Linked DNA regions of Homo sapiens: region 1 is linked to region 2. The links come from fine-mapping of genetic effects on gene expression. A gene starts in region 2. The other region holds a variant in brackets. All regions are shown on one strand. Distances are between the middles of the regions.

Region 1 (9,141 bases), 25 kb before region 2:
AGAGAGCAGTTAGAGGACTCACAGTTCCTGATTTCAAAACTGACTGCGAAGCTTCAGTGTCCTGAACAGCGTGGAACGGGCACCAGGACTGTCATGCAGTCACTAAGCCAAACTGAGGATCCAGAAATGAGCTTTTAGGTTTACGGTCAATCGATTTTCAGCAAGGGCACCAAGAGGATGCCAACTGGCAAAATACAGTGTTTTCAACACATGGTCCTGAGAAAACTGGGTCTGCACGTGCAGGAGTGAAGGCAGGCCCTTACCTTACATCACATGCAAACGCTGACTCAATATGGACCAAAACCTACTGGAAAGAGAGGAAGGCGCAAAACTCCAAAAAATCATAAGCACAAATCTTCACGATTTGGACTGGATTAGGCAACATTTGTTAGTTATGATACCAAAAGCACAGCCATCAAGAGACTAAATAGGTAAACTGGATACTATCAGAATTTAAAACTTTCATGCTCCAAAGGATACCAGCGAAAAATAAAAAGACAAAAGAAAATGAAAAGAACGCATGAAATGGCTGAAAATGTCCTATAAATCACACATCCGATAAAAGACTTGTACCTAAAACACATAAAATCACACATCCGATAAACGACTTGCACCTAAAATATATAAAATCACACATCCGATAAAAGACTTGTACCTAAAACACATAAAGAACTTTTTCAACTCAATCATAAGACAAATAACCCAGCAGACATTTCTCCAGTTTGTGGTGAACTGGCACTTTGACAAAACGCAGTGAGAATGTCACTACAATATCCAACTGCTATAAATGTGTTATTTCTGCCTCCATCTCACTGAGGCCATCAAGCAATGGCTGTGGATCCTGTGGGATCCACTGGGTTCTCCCCAAACAGCCCTGGCAGAGTCTGCAGGACACCCAGGAGGGGACTCAGGGCACAATTCCTCCTGGAAAGCAGCCTGGGCTGGGCGTGCAGGGTGACGAGGAAGTGGCAGGCCATGAGGTCCATGGCTGAGTCAGTGCCCTCCACCCTAGCACCACCATCCCCATCTCTGGGACCCGCCGCACGCTCAGCAGCATCCGCGGTGGGAAATACCATTCTGCAGGGTCTGCGCTCTCGACTCCTTCCCCAGATTCACGTGGAAGCCGCCACCCAGAGTCGGGGTTTTGCCAGCACCTGGAAACACAAAAAAAGACAGATCAGCCAAAACTTGGAGATCTGCATTTACAACCCTTTCCTAACATCCACAGACACAAAGTGAGAACAAAGCGGGGGTCAGCACTCATGGGGGAAGCAGCAGGTCGGCCCCCCGCACCTCCGTCACTGAGCCAGGAACCCCAGTGGGGGAAGCATCTCTCACTCTGCCCAGCCAGCAGGGTTGAGGGTGGGCCAACTGCACTTTCCGCATTTTCTTTTTTTTTTTGAGACGGAGTCTCCCTCTGTTGCCCAGGCTGGAGTGCAGTGGTCCCATCTCCACTCACTGCAAGCTCCGCCTCCTGGGTTCACGCCATTCTCCTGCCTCAGCCTTCCAAGTAGCTGGGACTATAGGTGCCCGCCACCACGCCCGGCTGGGATTACAGGCACTTTCTGCATTTTCTAACCATGTCCCTAACACACTGCAAGTCCAGAGTGGACGCTGTCAAATGGCTGCCGGGCGAGAACACAGATGTACCTCCAAACCTCTGCAAGTGGTGCACACACAGCATGGGCTGGCCGTCCCCCTTGCCCCAGGCCAGCCCACTCAGATATCACTCCTGCATGGTGACCACATGTGAACACATCCACCTCCCTGCTGGACTGCAGGGGACGCAGGTACCATCCCATGTGCCCCAAGGCACTGCAACCAGCCAGTCTGCAGAAGGCCCCCACGCCTCAGTCCACCCACCCATGGGGAGGCTGCAGCTGAACCTGCTGGACACTCTACTCCGAAGCTCTGCCAACTGACAGCATGCCTACGACGTCCACCACATTCTGCCCTGCAGGGCTTCGGGGTTAAGACCTGGCCCTGGTACCTCTGGAAACATCAGGTGGACATTTGGATTGTTCACCAGGTTCACCAGCCCGATCGCTGCAGCCTGATCTCCCAATGAGCATGGTGGACATGTGGATTGTTCACCAGGTTCACCAACCCAAACGCTGCGGCCTGATCTTCCAACGAGAACAGTAAGGTGAGGCCCCAGGCATGCCCAAAGATGGGGAGAGCTGGAAAGTGCCCCCCGCCCCGCAGCGTCGGCCCTCAGTGGTTGGCACAGGGGCCAGTGCATTTGTGACAAAGCACAGACACAGGACTGGAGGCTGCTGCAATCGGGACGCGCAGACAACCTTGGCCACTTGGGGGAAGGCAAGTGTGTAGGGCCTGTCGGAGGACACTGGAAGGATAGGATGCAGAAGCAGAAAGCCAATCGCTGGAGCCTGGGGCCAGGCCCTCCAGGGAAACCATGAGGCAGGGACCTCAGCGTCATCCAGGGGCAGCCACCAGCACAGACAAGGCAGAACAGGCACGGCCTCTGGCTTCACAATGAATGTAACTGAATCCCAAACAAATACTAACAACACTCTTTAAAGACTCCAGTAAAATGATTCTAAAGTTCAGTTGGAAGCAAAAAGGAATTAGAGCAGCCAAGAAAAGTTTTGAAGAGAGCAAGGGGCAGCTACTGGGCCCGTCCGGAAACTCAGAGCTGAACAGGGTCAGGTGGCACTCAGCTTTTCCTGGTGGCAGCAGAGGCAAAGCCCGGGCCTCCTTCAGGCTGAGGCCCAGAGCCGGCCTCCTGGTGGGTAACGTGGCCACAGGGGTGGCCGGCAGCAGCAGCAGGGCACCAGCACTGAGCACAGGCCTCCAACAAAGGTGGTGCCGGGACGGGGGCAGTGCCTGGAGACTACCTAGGTTGTCACAACTGGGATCTATGTACTAGTTTTCTGTGGCTGCCATAAAAATTGCCACAAACCTAGTGGCTTTCAAGAAGCTGTAGAAGGTCCGGGCGCGGTGGCTCACGCTTGTAATCCCGGCACTTTGGGAGGCCGAGGTGGGTGGATCACGAGGTCAGGAGATCGAGACCATCTTGGCGAACATGGTGAAACTCTGTCTCTACTAAAAATACAAAATTAGCCAGGCGTGGTGGCGGGTGCCTGTGATCCCAGCTACTCAGGAGGCTGAGGCAGGAGAATCGCTTGAACCCAGGAGGTGGAGGTTGCAGTGAGCAGAGATGGTGCCACTGCACTCCAGCCTGGGTGACAGAGCAAGACTCCGTCTCAAAAAAATAAAAATAAAAATAAAAATAAAATAAAGTAAAAAAGAAGCTGGAGTGGTGGCCGGGCATGGTGGCTCACACCTGTGGTCCCAACACTTTGGGAGGCCGGAGCAGGAAGATCGCCCAACCCAGGAGTTCAATACCAGCCTGGGCAACACGGGGAGACCCATTTCTTTCTTTCTTTCTTTCTTTTTTTTTTTTTTGAAACAGAGTTTCGCTCTGTCACCCAGGCTGGAGTGCAGTGGCGTGATCTTGGCTCACTGCAAGCTCTGCCTCCTGGGTTCATGCCATTCTCCTGCCTCAGCCTCCCGAGTAGCTGGGACTACAGGTGCCTGCAACCACGCCCGGCTAATTTTTTGTGTTTTTAGTAGAGACGGGGTTTCACTGTGTTAGCCAGGATGGGGGGAGACCCATTTCTACAAAAAAAAACTGAAAAAAATTAGCTGGGTGTGGTGGCACCTGCTTGTGGTCCTACTACTCAGGAGGCTGAGGTTGGAGGATCACTAGAGCCCGGGAGGTCGAGGCTGCAATGAGCTGAGATCGTGCCACTGCACTCCAGCCTGGGTGACAGAGCAAGACCCTGTCTCAAAAAAAAAAAAAAAAAGAAGCTAGAACAGGCCAGGCATAGTGGCTCACATCTGTAATCACAGCACTTTGAGAGGCTGAGGCAGGAAGACTGCTTGAGCCCAGGAGTTCAAGACCAGCCTGGACAACATAGCAAGATCCCATCTCTACAAAAAAAAAATGAGCGGGGTATGGTAGGGCATGCCTGTGGTCCCAGCTACTCAGGTGGCTGAGGCAGGCAGATCGTTTGAGTCCAGAAGGTGGAGGCTGCAGTGAGCTGTGATGCACCTCTGCACTCCAGCCTGAGCAACACGGTGAGAACCTGTCTGAACAAATAATAAACTAAACAGAAGCTGGAGCAGGTCGCAGTGGTGTCTCCTTGTGGGGGCTGGAGAGGACCTGGCAGGGCCACAGTGAGGTGCCTGCTGATATGAGAATCCAGAAGAGAGGCCAGGGAGAAACGCAGGACTCAGGAGAGACCCATCCTGGAATAAGGGGGCTTTGAGCAGCACTGATGAGCCAATTCTAAATTCTGCAGAAATCTGGCCCAGGCCTCCCCAGGCTGAGCTCCAGGTGCCTGCAACTCCGACCCTCCCTCAGAGTTCTTTGTTTTGTGAGCAGTGTGTATTCTTTTTTTTTTTGAGACGGAGTCTCGCTCTATCGCCCAGGCTGGAGTGTAGTGGTGCGATCTCGGCTCACTGCAACCTCCGCCTCCCGGATTCAAGCAATTCTCCTGCTTCAGCCTCCTGAGTAGCTGGAACTACAGGTGCGTGCCACCACGCCCAGCTGATTTTTGTATTTTTACTAGAGATGAGGTTTCACCACGTTGGCCAGGCTGGCCTTGAATTCCCGACCTCAAGTGATCCACCCACCTCGGCCTCCCAAAGTGCTGGGATTACAGGCGTGAGCCACCACGCCCCGCCTGTTTTTTCTAAGCGTTCGAATTAAGATCACCATTCTGTGTAGCCCCTGGCATGCTGGTCTCCAGCACATGCTCCCTCACCAACTTTCACTTTAGAAAAAGAAAAATCTCACTATATTCTAATTAGTGTATATAATGCTTTTAATAAATAACTCATATAACACTACATTAGAAAAAGGACAATGATCAAAGTATAAAAAGCCAGCTGGGTGCAGTGGCTCACGCCTATAACCCCAGCACTTTGGGAGGCCGATGCGGTTGGATCACCTGAGGTTGGGAGTTCGAGACCAGCCTAACCAACAAGGAGAAACCCCGTGTCTACTAAAAATATGAAATTACCCAGGCATGGTGGCACATGCCTGTAATCCCAGCTACTCAGGAGGCTGAAGCGGGAGAATCACTTGAACCTGGGAGGCAGAGGTTGTGGTGAGCCGAGATCGCGCCATTGCACTCCAGCCTGGGCAACAAGAGCGAAACTCCATCTCAAAAACAAATAAATAAAAAGCCCCTGAAGCCCCACCTTCCAAGAACAGGGGACGCCGTACAGCCTCCATTATAGCCACGTTTCCCTGCCTAGGTACAGTGGGCTGCAGGCGTGCTTCTGACAGAACAGGGCCACAGTGAGATGCCACGTTAAATTACAGTGATGATTTCGATTCTGGTTGTGTTTTACGCAATCTCTTCACTCCTTGACCCATACCCATCAGCTTGCACCACAGCACACTGCAAAGCTGCATGCGTCAGCAGCTCCACGCTCCACCTGCCACCTCTGCCCTCCCTCCTCCATCACTCTGTCTTGCACCCTCCAGCCTCCCATACCCTCCTCACACCCCAGGACCTCTGTTTCCTGTCCCTGTGTTGTTCTCCCTGTCCCCCAACACCACAGTCACCCTCCCTGGGGCCACGCTGCTGCACCTGCTCTGGAAGCGCCTCCTGGCTTCTGCTTGCCTCACACCCTGGTGCGTGCACACTTGCAGGCACACACACACAGGACACATGTGGACAGTGTGAAACCTCAGAACACTAACCCACAGGGAGGATGAAAGAGGAAAGTGCCACCTCTGGCTGAAACTGCCAGGATGCCCTCTACTTCTAAAAACATTTGGTATTTTCCATAGCG[T/C]GTTTCTATAACAAAAAATATGTGCTAGTTCCCGTTAGCTGGAACTGACATGTGGAAGGGGCCAGGTCTTGTGGGGCCTGGCCAAGACTGCCCCCCTGTGTACAGCAAGGGAGGACCTGCGGTTCCACCAGAGCCAGAGCAGGGCCAGAGGCCGCAGGGGCACCTCTGAGCTCCGACAAAGCCAGCAACACCCCATACCGCCGAACAGACAGAAAGGCGGGCCAGGGGCCCTCCATGTCCTGAAAGACCCAGCACAGCACTGTCCATTTCACACCAGGATTCTTCCAACATGAGAAAGCAATAACCTTTAATATTCACGTGCTCATTCAACTTAACTGGGGGCGGGCTCAGTGGCTCATGACAGTAATCTCGGCATTTTGGGAGGCCGATGTGGGTGGGTCACTTGAGGTCAGAAGTTCAAGACCAGCCTGGCCAACAGGGCGAAACCCCGTCTCTACTAAAACATACAAAAAAAAAATTAGCCAGGCATGGTGGTGTGCTCCTGTAGTCCCAGCTACTCGGGAGGCTGAGGCAGGAGAACTGCTTGAACCCAGGAGATGGAGGTTGCAGTGAGCCAAGACTCTGTCAAAAAAAAATTTTTTTTTAACTGGAGACTTTCTGTTGCTGCTGTGAAACTTCCTTTTTTTAAGAGACAGGGTCTGGCCGGGCGTGGTGGCTCACGCCTGTAATCCCAGCACCTTCGGAGGCCAAGGCGGGTGGATCACCTGAGGTCAGGAGTTTGAGACCAGCCTGGCCAACATGGCGAAACCCCGTCTCTACTAAAAACACAAAAATTAGCCGGGCATGGTGGCACATGCCTGTAATACCAGCTACTTGGGAGGCTGAGGCAGGAAAATCGCTTGAACCCGGGAGGCGGAGGCTGCAGTGAGATGAGATTGCGCCATTGCACTCCAGCCTGGGCAACAAGAGAGACACTCCATCTCAAAAAGAAAAAAAAAGAAGTCTCACTCTGTCACCCAGGCTAAAGCGCAGGGGCACCATCACGGCTCACTGCAGCCTCAACCTCTCGGACTCAAGGAATCCTCCCACCTCAGCCTCCCAAATAGGCGGGACCACAGACATGCGCCACCACGCCTAGCTAATGTTTTCTTATTTTTTGTTTTCTTTGTTTGTTTTTTTGAAGACAAGACAGAGTTTCGCTCCTGTCGCCCAGGCTGGAGTGTAATGGCACGATCTTGGCTCACTGCAACCTCCACCTCCCGGGTTCAAGCGATTCTCATGCCTCAGTCTCCCAAGTAGCTGGGATTACAGGCGCCCACCACCATGCCCAGCTAATTTTTGTATTTTGGGGTTTTTTCTTGTTTTGTTTTTTTAGTTTTTGTAGAGACAGTTTCACTATGTTGCCCACGCTGGTCTCAAACTCTTGACCTCAAGTGATCCTCCCACCTTGGTTTCCCAAAATCCTGGGATTACAAGCATGAGCTACCAAACCTGACTGGAAACTTCTTTTAAGGGGAGACACCTGTAGGAGGCCTGGCTGGCTGGGCAGTAATGGATGGAGAGGAATTCAGGGGTCCCACAGGTGAGTGCCCAAAGGAGGCTGGACCAGACCGCAGTGCATCCCTGAGAGCTGGGGACGGGGACCCGGGAACACAGAGCGTGTGCCTACTGGTGGGGCTGGATGCAGTAGCATCAGACATCTGGGAGGAGCACTGACAAACAGGGCCAAGCACGGCAGCCCACACCCCTTCCCAGGCGCAGACCCTTCCCATGCGCACACCCCTTCCCAGGCACAGACCCTTCCCAGGAGCAACCCTTTCCCAGGCCCACACCCCTTCCCCAGGCCCACATCCCCTCCCCAGGTCCAGACCCCTTCCCAAGCCCAGGCCCCTTCCCCAGGCCACTGCGGAGGAGCTGGTTTTGTAGTGATTACAATTTGGTTACGGAAAACAGGACGTGTGTCACGCTGCAGGCTAACCAGCAGCTTCCTCCCTCACCCAGATGGCAACGGGACAGAATTCACCCGTTTCCTAAGAGCAGGCACCTTCAGCCACAACTTAGGGTTCTGGGGGTCATGGAGCAGAGGCAGAAGCCTGGAGCCTTCCACCCTCAGGACTAGAGCCCCGCCAGGAGGCCAGGCGCATGCTCAGAACCCCAGGCCGCAGGGAGAGGCTGGCCGGTCACATCCTTCTCTGAGGCAGAGGGAGCTTCCCAGCAGGCGAGGGCAACTCCACCACCCATGTCCCCCTCCAGGGCCAGCGCCAGGTGACATGCAGCCATGTCACAAATTAGGTCCGGCTGCATCGTGACCCCAAACGGAAAACAGCAGCACTCACGGACACCCCAGCTTCGAAGTTCTAACTGTGAAGCCACTGAAAGTTGTGATTACGGGAAACGCTCCCCACCCCCACAAGTTCTGGTGACACTGAGGTGTGCTGCTCCTTGCACAGGACGAGGAGGGACCCCTGCAAGCAGGAGCCCAGGATGTCTGGTGTGTGGGCGCCATCACCATCACCTGCTGGCAGAGGGAAGCCTCAGGGCACACACAGTGCAGGACACTGATGTGGGCTCACAGGGAAGCCCCGCCTTGCCTCAGTGGAGCAGACGGCCTCCTCAGGGCACTGCCAACGGCCCCCAACTCCACCGTCTGCCTGGCCCCTCCAGCCACGCTGAGCCTCAGTCCTCACCCACCCTTCTCTCTGCACAGTCTCTGCTCGGGTGCCCCGGGACGCTGGAGCACCAGTGTGGTTTCCCCCGTGGGGCCTGGCTTCCAAGGTCAGGACCCTCTGGGGACTCTCCTGAGGCCTCTGGTCACCTGCCCTGATGCCTTAGTTAAATATTCCAGAGTAAACTGCGAAGCTGTATCAGGCTTAGTTCTCAATTAATAGGCAAAACACCTAGGAAAGACAGTGGCCTTGGGACTAGAAAACGACAGCTCAGAGAGAAAGCTCAGCTTTCAAGATGAAGCTGGAGGAAGGGGCGGCTGGGGCCTACTTGTGTGCCAGGGAAACTGAGAAGCCACCAAGGTTTCCAGCCCCCTGTGATCACCACTGTGACGAGGGAGGAAGGATGCCAAGTGGGCACCTAGAGAGCCTGCCTGGGAGACAGAGGGGCTGCCCAGAGCAACAGATCCCCTCTCTCCTCCCCACTCTCGGCCCAGGCACCACCTGCGCCGGTCCCCAGGGGCTAAGAACCCGCCGCCTCGCAGCACTTCCCCCAGGACCACCACAGTTGGTTGCTGGGCCTGCGCCTCCCTCCAGAGAGTGTGCCTGGGCTCAGAGGCGTCTTGGGGCCACCTGACAGCGCTGGCTCTGAGCTTGTTCTGACAGCACCCGGGTGACAGACTTC
Region 2 (16,468 bases):
GCTGGGATTACAGGCGTGAGCCACCGTGCCAAGCCCCATCGTGTTCTCATCTGTGGTGCTTTGACATCTTGGGGTCTCGTGGACCTAGAGAGGGACTCCCCTCCCAGGGTTAGCTAATTCCTAGAGACAGCTGACCACTTGCCTCTGAGTATGCCTTATTTACTTTATTTTTTCTTTTTTTCTTTTTTTTTTGAGGCAGGGTCTCACTCTGTCACCCAGGCTGGAGTGCAGTGGTATGATCATAGCTCACTGTCGTCTCAAACTGCTGGGCTCAAGAGATCCTTTGGCCCCAGCCTCCCAAAGTACTGAGATCCCAGGCTTGAGCCACCGTGCAGGCTGAGCATACCTTTGATATGCAGAGCAACCATCATGAGTCCCACCTGCCTCCTTTCATCAGGCTCCTGCATTCCTGAACACTAGCCCCCTGCCCTAAATCACCCCAAGGCCAGGTACCAGCTAGCTAGATACCACCCCCAAGCCCAGAGCCCACTGAAATGACCCAGTTCTAATTCTGCTCAGCTTGCCTCCTCTGCCTTGCCTGGAAAATGGCAATAAAGGCTCTTGCCCACCCTTTCCCTTCACCCCCTCCCTGTCCTGACTGGCCCTGGGTGCTTCCCCACGTGCCCCTCCTCCTGGGAACTGTGAGTAATAAACTCCTCTTTCAAAGGCGGTTGTCTCTGTGTCTGTCATCTTATCACATTTGATCAAAATAACTCCTGGGTACTCAATAGCCCTGTCCCCCCATGCAGCAGTCAGCAGGGGAAATGAGAAAGCAAGCTTCTATGGCCTTCTCACCTTCTCACCTGCTGCCTGGCCTTGGGCAAGTGCTTCAATCTCTCTAGGTTTCTACTTCCTCATCTGCATAACAGGGATAAGAATAGCCCACCCTAGCACTGCGGAGTATGATGGAGGACATGTGTCTGGTAGACAGACTGCTCAGAAGGCAAGTCCCTGTTCCTGTCTGTTCTCCGCAACTCGAGTGAGACTTGGTGAGGCTCCAGTCCACCTTCCACCACAGAAGTCAAGGGCCAGGCCAGGACAGTGGCTCACGCCTGTCATCCCAGCACTTTGGGAGGCAGAGGTGGGAGGATAGCTTGAGCCCAGGAGTTCGAGACCAGCCTGGGCAACAAAGTGAGATCCCTGTCTCTACAAAAAATTTAAAAATTAGCTGTGCGTGGTGGTGCGTGCCTCTAGTTCAGCTACTTGGGAGGCTGAGGCAGGAGAATCGCTTGAACCCAGGTGACTGAGGCTGCAGTGAGTTATGATCACACCACAGCACTCCAGCCTGGACCATAGAGTGAGACTCTGTCCCCCCCAAAAAAACAATTAGGCCGGGCACAGTGGCTCACACCTGTTATCCCAGCACTTTGGGAGGCTGAGGTGAGAGGATTGATTGAGCCCAGGTGTTTGAGACCAGCCTGGGAAATATGGCAAAACAGCATCTCTAACAAAAATACAAAAATTAGCCAGGTGTGGTGGTACATGCCTGTGGTCCCAGCTACTCGGGAGGCTGAAGAGGGAGGATTGCCTGAGCCCAGGAGACAGAAGTTGCAGTGAGCTGAGATGGCACCATTGTACTCCAGCCTGGGCACGACAGAGGCAGATTCTGTCTTTTTTTTTTTTTTTTTTTGAGATGGAGTCTTGCTCTGTCGTCCGGGCTGGAGTGCAGTGGTGCAATCTTGGCTCACTGCAACCTCCGCCTCCTGGGTTCAAGTGATTCTCCTGCCTCAGCCTTCTGAGTAGCTGGGATTACAGGTATGAGCCACTGTGCCCAGCTAAGTTTTGCAGTTTTAGTAGAGACAGGGTTTCACCATGTTGGCCAGGCTGGTCTGGAACTCCTGACTTCATGATCCGCCTGCCTCAGCCCCCCAAAGTGCTGGGATTACAGGCATGAGCCACTGTGCCCAGCCATGACTTTGTCTCTAAATAAATAAATAATTTTTTAAAACCCTTAGGGACCCAGCACAGTGGTTCACACTTGTAATCCCAGCACTTTGAGAGGCTGAGGCAGGAGGATGGTTTGAGTCCAGGAGATCTGGCCTACAGTGAGCCATGATGGCACCACTGCACTCCAGCCTGGTTGACAGAGCAAGACCCTGTCAAGAAAACAAAAGAAAAAAAAAGAAAAAGACAAACAAAACCTAACAAAACCAGAAATCCATCCTGCACGAAGAGCACTGAGGTTGAGTGTTGGTTGACACGTGTTGCGGTAATTGCTGTTCTGATGTCTGTGAATGTCCTTGGCTGATTTCTGTATTAGGGCCTGGGTGTTTTCCTTTCTTTTCTAATATTTAAGTTATGTCCTGGCTTATTGTGATGATATTCTATTGTGGGAAAGAAAGAAGTGTTAAAATTTATGCATCAAGGTCCCTCTTAATCTTGGGGCTCAGGATAACCACAGTCAAGAGGGGAGAGTTTTATTCCTGAATCCAGGTCATGCTGTGTTCAACTTTACACCCTGATTTGTCACACAATCACATATCTGAGAATTTCCCCATGTTGCTAAAACTGAGGCAGCGTTCCGTTTTGCTGGTTATTCCACATCCCATGGGGTGGATGTGCCAGGGCAAGTTTTGTCATTTCCCCTGGACTGGACATTCCTTTCTGTAGGTGTTGCTGTTTGAAATATCTCACACACCTGGACCTGTGTCCCTGTTGACATTTCCAGTGTCACCTGCAGGATGCCATGGGATACCCATGAGCCCAGGCAAATCTCCCAAGACGCTGCCAAGCCACTCTGCAGAGCTGCTCTGGGTCCTGCCCCAGGTGCTGTGTGAGGGAGCTGCGCTGCCTGCGCCCAACCCAGGAGGGGAGCAGCGTGCAGGACACCGAGGATGTCATCACGACCTTAGGTCTGTATTAGGTCTAGATTAGCCTGCATTAAGGAGAAGGTGGTGATGTGTGTCTTTTTTTTTTTTTTTTTTTTTTTTTTTTAGACGGAGTCTCACTCTCTTGCCCAGGCAGGAGTGCAGTGGCACAATCTCGGCTCACTGCAAGCTCCGCCTCCTGGATTCAAGCAATTCTCCTGTCTCAGCCTCCCGACTAGCTGGGACTACAGGCGCCCGCCACCACACCCGACTAATTTTTGTATTTTTAGTAGAGACGGGGTTTCAGTGTATTGGTCAGGCTAGTTTTGAACTCCTGACCTGGAGATCCACCCGCCTCGGCCTCCCAAAGTGCTGGGATTACAGGTATGAGCCACCGCACCCAGCCATGTGCATCTTTTTATAATTTACAATTCGTGATAGTAGTGACAACTGTCTCACTTATTCTTTTGTGAATCTTTTGTAGCTTCTCTAACCATTTTCCACTGGGAATTTTTTAGTGGTCTTATGGACTTGTATGATTTCCTTTGATATTAAGAATGTTACCCTAGTGAGCCAGGCACAGTGGCTCACGCCTGTAATCCCAGCACTTTGGGAGGTCGAGGCGGGCGGATCATGAGGTCAGGAGATCAAGACCATCCTGGCTAACACGGTGAAACCCCGTCTCTAATAAAAATACAAAAAATTAGCCAGGCGTGGTGGCAGGCGCCTGTAGTCCCCCCTACTCAGGAGGCTGAGGCAGGAGAATGGCATGAACCCGGGAGGCAGAGCTTGCAGTGAGCTGAGATGGCACCACTGCACTCCAGCCTGGGCGACAGACAGAGCGAGACTCTGTCTCAAAAAAAAAAAAAAAAAAAAAAGAATGTTACCCTAGTGAAACATTCAGTATTCTTACAAAGATCATCCTCAATAGTTTGTTGCGTTGGGTGAGGGTTCCCTTTGCACGTTTGGTTTTTTCAGGACGGGGCGCAGCCCCAGCCAGATGGCGCCCGGCTCTCCAGCCAGCGGCAGCTCACCCTGCTGTGGTTTGATTTTCCCTACACAATTAATACATGTTCATCATGGAGAAAATAGGAGATAAAGATAAGCAAAAAGGAGAAACCAAATCAATGGAATCCCCATCACACAGAGATACTTTCTTAACACTTTGGATTAATTTGTATCCTATCAATATTTTTCTATACCTGAAAATAGGTGTTTTATATGTATAATCACTAACATGTAAATACATACTGCACATGGACATGCATTTTCACATACATTTTTGTTTTCTTGAGACAGAGTTTCACTCTTGTCACCCAGGCTGGAGTGCAGTGGCACAATCTTGGCTCAATGGAACCTCTGCCTGCTGGGTTCAAGCGATTCTCCTGCCTCAGCCTCCCGAGTAGCTGGGATTACAGGCGCGCACCATCATGCCCCACTAATTTTTTGTATTTTTAGTAGAGATGGGGTTTCACTATGTTGGCCAGGATGGTCACAAACTCCTGACCTCAGGTGATCCACCCACTTCGGCCTCCCAAAGTGCTAAGATTACAGGCATGAGCCACTGTGCCCGGCCTTTTTATTTTTATTTTTTGAGATGGAGCCTGGCTCTGTCCCCCAGACTGGAGTGCAGTGGTGTGATCCTGGTTCACTGCAACCTCCACCTCCTGGGTTCAAGTGATTCTCCCACCTCAGCTTCCCAAGTCACTGGGATCACAGATGCGCACCACCATGCCCAGGTACGTTTTTGTATTTTTGTTAGAGATGGGACTTTGCCATATTGCCCAAGCTGGTCTTGAACTCCTGAGGTCACGGGATCTGTGCGCTTTGGCCTCCCAAAGTGCTGGGATTACAGGTGTGAGCCCCTGCGACTGGCCTGTTTTTAGCTACTTTTAACTCACTATTTCTGCCAGCTGTAGAATATTCTATCAGGTTCTATCATGGCTCACCTAACCCTGTTCTACTCTACAACCCCGGGGTTGATTCCAGGCCTCACTCTCAGCAGTTGAGCTGCTCTAAGGGTGACCGTGGGAACTGTCCACAGGTGCGGCTGCGGGTGCAGCGATCTCAGCGGTCTTAGAGCTCTTGGCCATCCCCCACATGGCTTCCCAGAAAATGCCTCCAGGAGGAGGGCCCTGCTGTACCTTTTTTGTGACCATTCCTCCTCAGCCTCAGTCATGGCCATGTGCTCCAACCATGGGAGTGGATGCGGCAGGGCCTGTCTAGGGGTTCGGCAGTTCTGTCCCTCTGCCATAGCATGGGCTGGGCAGGGACCTGGCCACGTGGGGCTGCTTCCTCAGCCCAGCTCCTGGCAGGAGAAGGAGTAGGGGCGCTGTGGGCTGGAGCCGCCAACTGACCAGTGCTGGCCCTGGAGGAGGCCCCTCCCCCACTCCCCGACTTCAGCAGGGCCTGCTGTGTGTCTGTGTCATCTTAGCCCAGGCTGAGGAGATGAATGCGTTTCCAAGCAGCCCATGGTCCTGGCGCCCGACTGGAAAAGCCTGAGCCTTCACCCTAGGTGGAGGGACCTAGCGAAGCCAGGCGGACAGAGGAAAGGCCTCGGCCCATCCTGTCCCATGACTGGGGGTTGGGGCTTCGTCTTTTTAATACCAATGGAATCCTAGCCAAGCATTCAGAACCTTGAAGCTTTAACTTCTTAAATAATAATAACTCCCACAACCTCCGGGGACCCCGGGCAGCACGTGGTAGGACCAGCTTTCAGGTTGTCCTCCTGAGACCCCAGGGCTCTGAAGGATCCTCTTCTTGGACCTCCTCCCCAACCGTGCCCAGCCACCCCAGTCATCCGAGAGGTTTGTCTCAAACCAAGTTCCTGCTTTAAAGAAAACGCTACCAGAGAAAGCACCTGTGCTCCAAACACGGGGGTGAGGGCTCACACCATGCCAGGGTCATAGCATGGGGAGGGATGCCTCCCAGCCTTCAGGGGATCTCCTCCTGTGACCCACAGCCCTCAAGAGAAGGACCAGCACAGCATCATTTTCCGACAGAGGAGGGCAGTGCAAATAACAAGTTCTGGCTAAAAAGTTACTCTGATCACCCAAGGGACATCTGTGCACTTGGAAAATACAGAAGACCACAGTCCCATCACCACCATCCCACCTTAAAAACAAACATAAACGTGGTCGCAGGCGTGACACATGGTGTGTTTCGTGTCCCTGCTTTCCTGCCTGGCAGAAGCATTGATGTAGACCCACCATACGGGTTCTTCGGGCCACTCTGGTACAGACTGTGTGGGTCATATCCCGACCCCTGGCAGCTGCATAACCTCACAGGCCGCCATCTCCTCTTTTGTCACTTGGGATGGGACAGAACTGTCACGTCCCTTAAGGGCTCACAACGGTGCCTGGCACAGAGGAGGGGCACCGCTCAATGGTGGCAGCTGGTGCCAAGCCCTGCTGTGCACGGCTTAGTCACCCCGCATCTCCTCACTTGACCCCCAGTTGTAGTCCCTGCCTGGGTTAGACGCTGGCATACACAGGCACCATGTGTCAGGCGGCCCATCCGTCTGACTGCAACTGCACGCTCGCCAGGTCCAGCAGCGCCGTACGCTCAGTTCTGGGGTCAATGGGTGCCTGTCTCCTGCCCTCCCATCACAGACAGCCTGTCCTCCTGGGGTATGGCTACCCCCTCTCTGGACATAGTCACTTCTCCCCCTACCCTGTCTCAAAGGTATGAGATCCACCGGCCCTCTGCCCGCCGAGCAGCTGGCCAAGGTCAGACAGACCCTCATGGCTCTCAGTGTACCACCTTAGAGGAGCCAGGGGCGCGTGGGAAACACAGAGTCCCTTGTTCTCTCCGAAGTGGGACCCTGACTTTAAGCAGTCGCAGCTGTTTGCAGTTCTAGATACAGGAGTTACAGCTGGAGGCTGAGCTCTCTCAACGGAGGAAGCAGCGGCATGAGGGCCTTTGCAGAAGGAGCTGACGGGGCACTGGGGTGGCAAGCCCCGTGGGCCAGGAAAGAAACCAGCTCCAGGTCAATTTGCTCGGGCTGGATTTGTTTCAGTAAAACTACTTGTAGACAAGACACAGGGCGAAGAGAAAAGCAACTGTAAACTAACTGTGAAACAAGGAAACAGAAGAGAGGCCAGAAAACCGTTTCCTAAATCTCGGCTTGGCATCTGGTGCTGGACCACAGCCGCTGCCAAACAGATGGGGGAAGCACCCTCCCTGAGCCCCAGAGCCTACACGTCGGGCCCCAGCGGCTCTAGCCATTGCCTCCTCTTTGCTTGGGTCCCCAAGTTCACTGTTAACCCCAGGGCCAGGAGCCAGCCTTGGCCCCAGACATTTGTTCTCCATTGTCCTGAGCACAACGCTGAAAAGCGGCGCTGAATAAGGATGCTGGGACGCAAAGAGGGCGCCCGGGGTCATCTGGAGCCCTGGAGGCTAAGCTCGGCAGCCTGGCGCCCCGAGTGGCTTCGAGTCCCCGCGACCGCCGCCAGGCCCGGCCACCTCCTTGCCACCTCCCTGCGTCCCGGGGAACCCACGCAGGGGGGCGCGAGGGAGGGGCTCGGGGACGGGCGGGGCCCGCACAGCCGGGCCAACCCAGCGGGGGTCGGCAGGAGACAAGGGGCGGCGAGGGCAGGGGGGCGGGGAGACTCGGGGCATGGCGGGGTGGAGGCGGGAAAGTGTCGAGGCCGGGGAATCCGCGCGTGGGGAGGTGGGCATCGCCAGGGCGACGATGAGCTTTCCTTAGGGGGCGGCGCCTGAAGCTGGCCGGGACCCGGTGGACCCCCACGACTCTCCCGGCCCTTGCCCGCGGCTCCCGGGGGGCGGGGCGGGGCGCCCCGGGCGGGGTCTGTGCGCAGGCGCGTGAGTGCGCGCTCTCGCGCACCGGCGGGCGGGGACGCCCCGTGAGGCGCCGCCGGAGGAAGCGCGCGCGCACCTCACTTCCGGCGCGCGCTGCGCCGGCGGCGATTGGACCCGAGGCGGCGAGCTGGCGCCCCGCCCAGCCAATCGGCGGCGCCGGCGCGGGTCGGAGGGCGCCGGGCGCGCGCGGGGCGGCCGGGGGCGCGCGGGGCGCGGGCGGGGCGCCGGGCGGGGCGGGGCGGAGCGGCCGCAGCTCGTCGCCGCCCGCGGGCCTGTCCGACGCCGGGGCCCGGCCCGTCCCCTCCGCCGCCCGGCAGCCATGTGACCGCGCCGCCGCCCTCCGCGCGCCCGGCCCGCCCGCCGCGCGTCCGCGGCCCGGCCGCAGCCCCAGGCCGCCGAGGGAGCGGCGGGGCCGGCGCCATGGCCGAGCGAGGCCGCCTCGGCCTCCCCGGCGCGCCCGGCGCGCTCAACACGCCCGTGCCCATGAACCTGTTCGCCACCTGGGAGGTGGACGGCTCCAGCCCCAGCTGCGTGCCCAGGTACGCGCCGCCCGCCGCGCTTTGTTCCCGCCGGGCACCTGCTGGGGGTGTCCTGGCCGCGGCCTCTGCGCGCCCCATCCCCGGCCCGGGTCCCCCAGCGGAGCCCAGGTCGCCCCCCGCGCCCCCGCCCGCCGGTTCGACGCGTGCAGCCGCCGCCCCCCCGCAGCTCCGGCAAGCGCGGCCCCAGCCCCCCAGGTCCCGAGCACCGGGGGCCGCGCTCAGCTTCCGAGGACCCGGTGCTGCTCAGACCCGGCGGGACCTTGGGGCTCCCGGGCGGCGCTCACCTGGCTCGCCGCAACCGCACCTGCACACCTGCCTCAATGCGGTGCCGGCCGGGGTGACGAGGGTGCTTCCTCTCTCGGGTACCACACGCTTCCTTTCGCGTTCGGCGACACTGTCAGACCTCGGCCTGGGAGCGACCCCCGGCGCACGGGGCGCGCAGGACTCGGTTGTATCCTCCGTCCAGCGCGCGGTGGAGATGCCCTGTCCTGCGGGGCGGGGTCGTCCTCGCGGGTACCTGGTTGGCGCTGTCTCTCATTTAGAGGCGTCGCCAAGCCAGTACTGCTATTTGCGCCTCCCAGTTGATCTTGCCATTGCGGAAGACTGGCTGTTCTGCACTTGGTAGGGGGGCGCCCGGTCGCCCAGCGGTAACGATTGGACAGGGTTTACCCTCCGGCCATAGCCCAGCCTTCCTTGGACTTGCAGCTTCCCTGAGTCTCCTGCTCAGTTTGAAACTTTTGTAATTTCTTCGTGACTTGGTAGTTCCTGCTCAGGAAGCTCCCAGGCTAAGGAGGAGAGAGACACGCTCTCCGGAAAAGTTCTGGTTCTAGAATAGACAGCAGGCGAGAAGAGGAGGCGGTTGGGGGTAGTGAGAGTTCTCCCTGGGGAGATGGGAGGGTGAGCGGACCTTCCAGGCACTGGAAGTGGCCAGTATGCCTGGAGGGGACCCCACGTGGCATTGAGTTGTTCCACCCCTAGTCAGCTGCAGGTGGGCCTCTCCGTGCTTTCCTGTGGCTCCCACAGCCTGCATCTCTGAGCGTGGTGTTGGAGTTGCAGAGCCGCTGGACAGTGGGGCTTGCCCTCCTGGAGCGCAGGGTTGGGACCTCGGGGCTTTGGTTTTGCTGAGTGGACAGGAAGGATGCCCACCCGGCACGACTCTTGCACCTGGCGGGGCCTCCCGAAGGACCCAGTGTCCATATGAGACCTAAGGGTCAGCATTTGCCCAAGGTCTGGGGCCGAGCACTGCAGATGTGCCTGCTTGCCTCTCTTCTGGGAAGTCTCTGGGGCCTCAAAGCCAAAGCCAGGAGCATCTCCCCAGGCCTGGCTGCTTCTCCATTCCAGGTCTTGGCGATTGCCCCAATGTCAGGTCCCACAGCCCCACAGCCCTTCTCCTGTCTGCCCCTCTGAGTCACTGCCTCACCCACAGCCCCAGAACCTTCATGCGGGCTGTTGGCGCTCCCCTGCTCCAGCACTGCAGCACATAGCCTGCCCTTGCTGAACCTCTGCAGCAGCTTCCTGGGGCCCTCCGAATGAGCAGCAAAGTCTTTAACCCAAGGGAGGTGGGGGCGTGTGGCAGGAGGGGCCGGGGGCCTTATCAGCCCCCCTGTGGAGCTGTGCTCTATTCTCCAGGGGTCTAGAAAGCCCACTCTGGTGTCTGTGGGGAGGGTATGGGTAGGGCGGGTTTCGAGAAGCCTGGTTAGGACAGGCGGGGGTAGATGGGGGCACCTGGGCTGGGTAGCACTAAGTGCTGGGGGGGGTCCCGAGCTCTGGCCTGGACAGGGTTGGGAGGAAGGGTAGGCAGGAGGACAGGATTTGTTCTGTTGGTGTGGAGTTAATGGGCGGAGGAGTTAATGGGCGGAGGGGCGAGTGGCGCAGCTGACCAGGTGGGCAGATGCAGTTTGTTCGTAGGACATGCTCAGCCTCATAATGAGCTCCTGCCCTTACCTGTCCTGGAACAGGGCCCCTCATAGGCGGGCTTGCCCCTAGCTTTGCTTTGTGCTTGTGCCGCCTGTCCGTGCATCCTCGGACAGTCTGCTACTTAGTTTTGCTTTGTTCCTCCTGAGTTCTTCTGTACTCCTCACTTTTGCCCAGCCATGAAGCTTCTGGGCTGCGTGTGTGCTGATGCCTTTCGGCGTGTTCACTGCTGCGTACTATTCACTGGCGTGACAGTACCTCGGCTTTGCTTCTGTCAAGGGACCTTGGCTTGTTTCCAGTTTTTTGGTTAATTACAAGCCCCGTGCTGCTGTGGACATCGTGTGCCAGTCTTCTGCGTGTGTCTTTCTGGATGGGCAGGGCCTGTCTTAAGCATGTACCGCCAGCTACCAGGATTTATGGTGGGGGTGTGCACGCACTCAGCGTTACTGCTGGGCAGTTTTCCAGAGTGGTTGTGCCTGCTCCGGCCCCCACTGACAGGGACGAGAGTCCCCACTGCTCCACATTTGTGCCAACACTCATTTGACTTAATTTTTGCCAGTCTGGTGGGTGTGAAGTGGTATCGTGGTTTTAACTTGAATTTCTCTGATTACTAATTTAGGCCATTTGTACTTCCTTGTCAGTGAAATTCCTGTTCCTTTGCCAGTTTTTTTTTCTCTTTTTTTCTGCTTGAGTTTCAGCAGTTTCTTTAGAGATAGTCATCCTTTCTCGGCTGTGTTGAGGATGTCCCCGTCCAGTTATGAGCGAGTCTTTGCTCTCTGAGCAGCCTCTGGGTGCACTCCCCGTGTCAGCCTGGTGGAGTGTGCACATTGACTGTTTGCCAGGCTGGGGTGCTGGTCTCGTTTCGGTTCTCCTTCTGGGAGGCAGCCGGAGAAGTCTGCCCCCGGGAGCTTGAACTGGGCATGCTGGGCTGTTGTTGGGGAGGCCTGTGCTCCGGGTTTCCTTGCGACGCTTTTGGCTCAGCACTGTTACACACGGTGCTCCTAGGTGGTCCACGGGGTATGCGTCAGTGCCTGTCTGTGGCCTCTGCCTCCTGGGTTCCCAGAGTGTCCTCCTGGTGCCCATGTCCCTGAGCGCCCCCACCTGCTCTTCAGCAAGGGCTGGGCTGCTTTGTACCTTGCCCTTCCCACTTGATTGTTTTTTCGGTTGATGTTTATTAATTTGTTTTTATTTATGTATTTTGTTGTTGTTGTTGCAGAGACAGGGTCTCCCTATGTTGCCCAGACTGGTCTTGAACTCCTGGGCTCAAGTGATCCTCTCACCTCGGCCTCCCGAAGTGCTGAGATTACAGGTATGAGCCCCTGGGCCTGGCCATCTGTTTGGTTTTTAGAGACAGAGCCTCACTTTGTGGCCCAGACTGGGGTGCAGTGGCTTGATCATGGCTCATTGTAACCCCTAAAACCTGGGCTCAAGCAGTCCTCCCACATCAGCTTCCTGAGCAGCTGGGACTACAGGTGTACACCACCATGTCTGTCTAATTTTTTTGTTTTGTTTTGTTTTTTTGAGACAGAGTCTCACTCTGTCACCAGGCTGGAGTGCAGTGGTGCAATCTCGGCTCACTGCAACCTCCGCCTCCCTGTTTCGATTTTCCTGCCTCAGCCTCCCAAGTAGCTAGGACTACAGGCGCCTGCCAGCATGCCCGGCTAATTTTTGTATTTTTATTTTATTTATTTATTTATTTATTTTTATTTTATTTTATTTTATTTTGAGATGGAGTCTCGCTCTGTCACCCAGGCTGGAGTGCAGTGGTGCTGTCTCGGCTCACTGCAAGCTCCGCCTCCTGGGTTCACACCATTCTCCTGCCTCAGCCTCCCGAGTAGCTGGGACTACAGGCGCCCGCCACCACGCCCGGCTAATTTTTTTTATATTTTTAGTAGAGATGGGGTTTCACCGTGTTAGCCAGGATGGTCTCAATTTTCTGACCTCGTGATCCGCCCGCCTCAGCCTCCCAAAGTGTTGGGATTACAGGCGTGAGCCACCACGCCCTGCCTATTTTATTTTTTTGAGAAGCTCTGTCGCCCAGGCTGGAGTGCAGTGGCACGATCTCAGCTCACTACAACCTCCACTTCCCGGGTTCAAGCAATTCTCCTGCCTCAGCCTCCTGAGTAGTTGGGACTACAGGCGTGCACCACCACGCCCAGCTAATTTCTGTATTTTTAGTAGAGACAGGGTTTCACCATGTTGGCCAGGATGGTCTCGATCTCTTGACCTCGTGATCCGCCCGCCTTGGCCTCTGAAAGTGCTGGGATTACAGGCGTGAGCCACCACGCCCAGCCAGAATTATCTTTTTAAGTTTCACACAAAGCCACATTTGGTTTATAATTGGAAGTTCTTTAACTCTGTAGAGCAGGTTGGGGAGAATTGACGTTTGTGTGGTACTGAGTCTTCTCATTCATGATCAAGCTATTTACTTAGGTCTTGAATGTATTTTGAGAGTTTTACAAGATTCTGCTGTCATGCATATCCTTTGTTACATTTATTCCTAGATGCTTGTATTTTAGAAGTCATAGTAAAAGTCAGCTTTTTATTATGTTTGTTGCTAACATATAGAAATTCAGTTGATTTTTCAAAGAAATCAGTGATTTTACTATTTTTAACCTAGTAACTTATCTATAGATTATTTTGTATTTTCAAAATGTATGTTTTGTCTTTTGCAAAAGACAAAGTTGTTTCTTTTCAATCCTCATACTTTTCTTTCTTTCTCTTGCCTGACTGTGCCAGTTGTCATAGTACAGTGTTGAATATGGTTGGTTGCGTGGATTACCCGTGTTCTGTCTTGACCTTAAGGAAGGTTTCCAGTGTTTTACCTTTAAGGACGATGTTTGCTGCAACTTTTTGTGGATAGCCTTTATGCACTTAAAAAGTCTCATCCTATTCATGACTTGCAAAGGCTTTTTAAAGAAATCATTATGAGTGGATGTTGAATATAATCAAGTACTTTCATTAAGAGGATTATATAATTTTTATCTTTTCATTACTATTGTGGTAAATTACATAAATTGATTTTATTTCTTTTCTTTTCTTTTTGAGACAGAGTCTCGCTCTGTTACCAGGCTGGAGTGCAGTGGCGTGATCTCAGCTCACTGCAACCTCTGCCTCCCAGGTTCAAGCAATTCCCCTGCCTCAGCCTCCCAAGTAGCTGGGACTACAGGTGTGCACCACCACGCCCAGCGAATTTTTGTATTTTTAGTAGAGACGGGGTTTCACCGTGTTGGCCAGGAGGGTCTCGATCTCCTGACCTTGTTATCCGTCCACCTCAGCCTCCCAAAGTGCTGGGATTACAGGCGTGAGCCACCATGCCTGGCCGTAAATTGATTTTCTAACATTAACCTATTCCTGGAAAAATACTAGTTTAAGCATGTTGTATTACCCTTTTTAAAAATTGGTGGATATATATTTATTTATGTATTTATTTTTTGAGACAGGGTCTTGCTCTTTTGCCTAGGCTGGAGTGCAGTGGTGTGACCATGGCTCAAGCAATCCTCCTGCCTCAGCCTCCTGAGTAGCTGAGACTACAGGTGCATGCCACTGGCCTGGCTAATTTTAAATTTTTTGTAGAGATGGGGTCTCACTATGTTGCTCAGGCTGGTCTCCAACTCCTGGCCTCAAGTGATCCTCTCACCTTGGCCTCTCAAAGAGCTGGGACTCCAGGTGTGAGCCTCCCTACCTGCCCACATTGGTGGGTTTAGATGATAGTATCTTGTTTAGGACTTCTGCATGTGTGTCTGGGGTCTATGTGCTTCCTTTCTTCTGTAGTCCTTAGCAGATTTTGGCGCTAAGATTTCCTTGTGAAATGAAATGAGTACTGCCTCTTTTGCTGTATCGTGGTATAGCTTATGTAAAATTGGAATCATTTCTTCCTTGAATGTTTGGGATAATTCACTTATAAAATAACCTGACTGGCCGGGCCTGGTGGTTCACACCTGTAATCCCAGCACTTTGGGAGGCTGAGGTGGGTGGATTACCGGAGGTTAGGAGTTCGAGACCAGCCTGGGCAACGTAGTGAAATCCCATCTCTACTAAACATACAAAAATTAGCCAGGCGTGGTGGCACGCACCTGTAATTCCAGCTACTCAGGAGGCTGAAGCAGGAGAATCACTTGAACTTGGGAGGCGGAGGTTGCAGTGAGCCCAGATGGCGCCACTGCAAAAACATTTTTTTTTGAACCTGCTTTCTGGGTCAGTGTGTCAATTTTAATGCACGTTCTGTTTATACTTAAAAGGAATGTGTGTTTGGCAGTTGATGGTGCAGTGTTTGTCTATTAGATCAAGCTTGGTTTACTGTGGTCTTCAAGTCCGTTCCCTTTTTTTGTCTACTAGAAATGTATGTTAAAATCTTATAATCTGAGAATAGATTGGTCCGGGTTTTCTAACAGTTCTGTCAGTTTCTGTTTGATACTTTTTTTTTTTCCAGACAGGATCTCACTCTGTCACCTAGGCTGGAGTGTAGTGGGACGATCACAGCTCACTGTAGCCTTGAACTCCCAGGCTTAATCGATCCTCCCACCTCAGCTTCCCGAGTAGCTGGGACTACAGGTGTGCACCACCACACCTGGCTAAATTTTGTATTTTTTGTAGAGACTGGGTTTTTCCATGTTGCTCGGGCTGATCTTGAATTCTTGGGCTCAAGCAGTCTACCTGCCTCAGCCTCCCAAAGTGCTGGGATTATAGGCATGAACCACTAACGCCCCGTCACTTAATATATTTTTGAGGCTATGTTATTAGGTACATACATGTTTAGAATTGTAATTCTAGGTATTTTGAACTTTTCTCATTGTATGACTGCTTTTATATCTAGTAATGCTTTTTGTCTTTAGTATTGACTTTGATGCAAGCATTCTTTTGGATAATTTTTGCCTGTTAGCTATTTTTCTATCCTTTTTAAAAACCTTTGTATATCCTTACATATTAGATGTGTCTTTGGTTATTCAGCATGTATCTAGATTTCATTTTCATTCACTCTGACCTTTTCTGACTTTTTTTTTTTTGAGACAGAGTCTCGCTGTGTCGCCAGGCTGGAGTACAGTCGTGCAATCTTGGCTCACTGCAACCTCTCCTCCCGGGTTCAAGCGATTCTCCTGCCTCAGCCTCCCGAGTAGCTGGGACTACAGGCGCCTGCCACCACGCCCAGTTAATTTTTGTATTTTTAGTAGAGACGGGGTTTCACCATGTTGGCCAGGCTGGTCTCGAACTCTCGACCTCGTGATCCGCCCGCCTTGGCCTCCCAAAGTGCTGGGATTACAGGCTGAGCCTCTGTGCCCGGCCTTTTTTTATTTTTATTTTTTATTTTTTGAGACGGAGTCTCTCTCTTTTGAGATGGAGTCTTGCTCTGTTGCCCAGGGTGGAATGCAGTGGCGCAATCTTGGCTCACTGCAACCTCCACCTCCCAGGTCAAGTGATTCTTGTGCCTCAGCCTCCCGAGTAGCTGGAACTACAGGTGCGCGCCACCGCACCCGGCTCATTTTTTTGTATTTTTAGTAGAGACGGGGTTTCACCATGTTGGCCAGACTGGTCTCGAACTCCTGACCTCAAATGATCTGCCCGCCTCGGCCTCCCAAAGTGCTGGGATTACAGGCATAAGCCACCACGCCCAGCCTACCCTGTACATTTTAATGTGCATAGTTAATTGTATCTTTACTCTCCTGCTGAACTATGCAGGGACCTTAGCCCACTTTATTCTAATCCAACCCTTTCATGTTTATATTTATATGATTTTGTTACTGTGTATCTTAATTGTTTTCTTGTGAAGCCCACAAGATGTTGTTACTGCTTTATACTGTGATATTTGATGAGCTTCAAAACTCACCACTTCCTTTGTTGCTCATTCTTCTTGCATGTCAGGAATCATTTTCCTTCTTCTGTTGAATATTTGTTCTTAGGATTTCCTTTAGTGAGGATCTGCTGATAACTACCTTCTCTTTCTGTTTGTCTGAAGATGTTTTAGTTTACCCTCACCCTGAGCAGGGCGTGTGCTGGTTGTACGATGCTGGGGTGGTGTGTGCTCCTCCCACAGGTCCAGGCAGGGCGTCCCTGGCTTTGACTTCCAGCTTTGCTGTAAGAGGTCAGCGGCCGTGACAGGCTGGAGGGAGACGTCTGGGTGGCTTTGTGGTCATGTCATCGTTGCCAACGGTCGTCTCATGGTGGGTCCTGGTGTGGGTTCTCTTGTGATTGCCTGAGTCGGGGTTACTAGACTTGCTGACTTTGTGGATCGATGATTTTCATGAGTCCCGGGAAGCTCTCAGCCACTTTTTCTTCTGCTGTTGGTTCTGCGCTATTCTCTCTCTCACCTCTGGAGCAACAATTGGACGTGTTGCTCTTCCTGCCGGATCCTCCACATCCATAGATGCACTGGGTGGTGTCAGTGGGCGG

What was found. PIP is the estimated chance that this variant, and not a neighbour inherited with it, causes the effect. A credible set is the group of variants that fine-mapping cannot tell apart.
Region 1: its variant is the best candidate, but not a certain one, in a credible set for the expression of PACS2 in whole blood (TOPMed, PIP 0.57).

What each region holds. Positions count from the first base shown.
Region 1 is chr14:105,285,223-105,294,363 of GRCh38, forward strand. BRF1 (BRF1 general transcription factor IIIB subunit) reads right to left here. Exons shown (of 18, transcript NM_001519.4): 2 at 1,074-1,154. Among named protein-coding and RNA genes, the nearest start is that of BRF1, 11 kb to the right of the region's middle. RefSeq lists enhancers at 701-1,599, 7,851-8,000, 8,151-8,270, 8,911-9,040. The variant T/C (reference allele first, on the strand shown) is at 5,833.
Region 2 is chr14:105,306,871-105,323,338 of GRCh38, forward strand. It overlaps PACS2 (phosphofurin acidic cluster sorting protein 2), which reads left to right and starts at 7,878. Exons shown (of 25, transcript NM_001100913.3): 1 at 7,878-8,167. The coding sequence starts at 8,049. It also overlaps a transcript of BRF1 not described here and the pseudogene LOC124903409. RefSeq lists silencers at 5,239-5,399, 7,240-7,329, 7,430-7,959, 8,100-8,189, 8,420-8,499 and enhancers at 8,244-8,895, 16,050-16,468.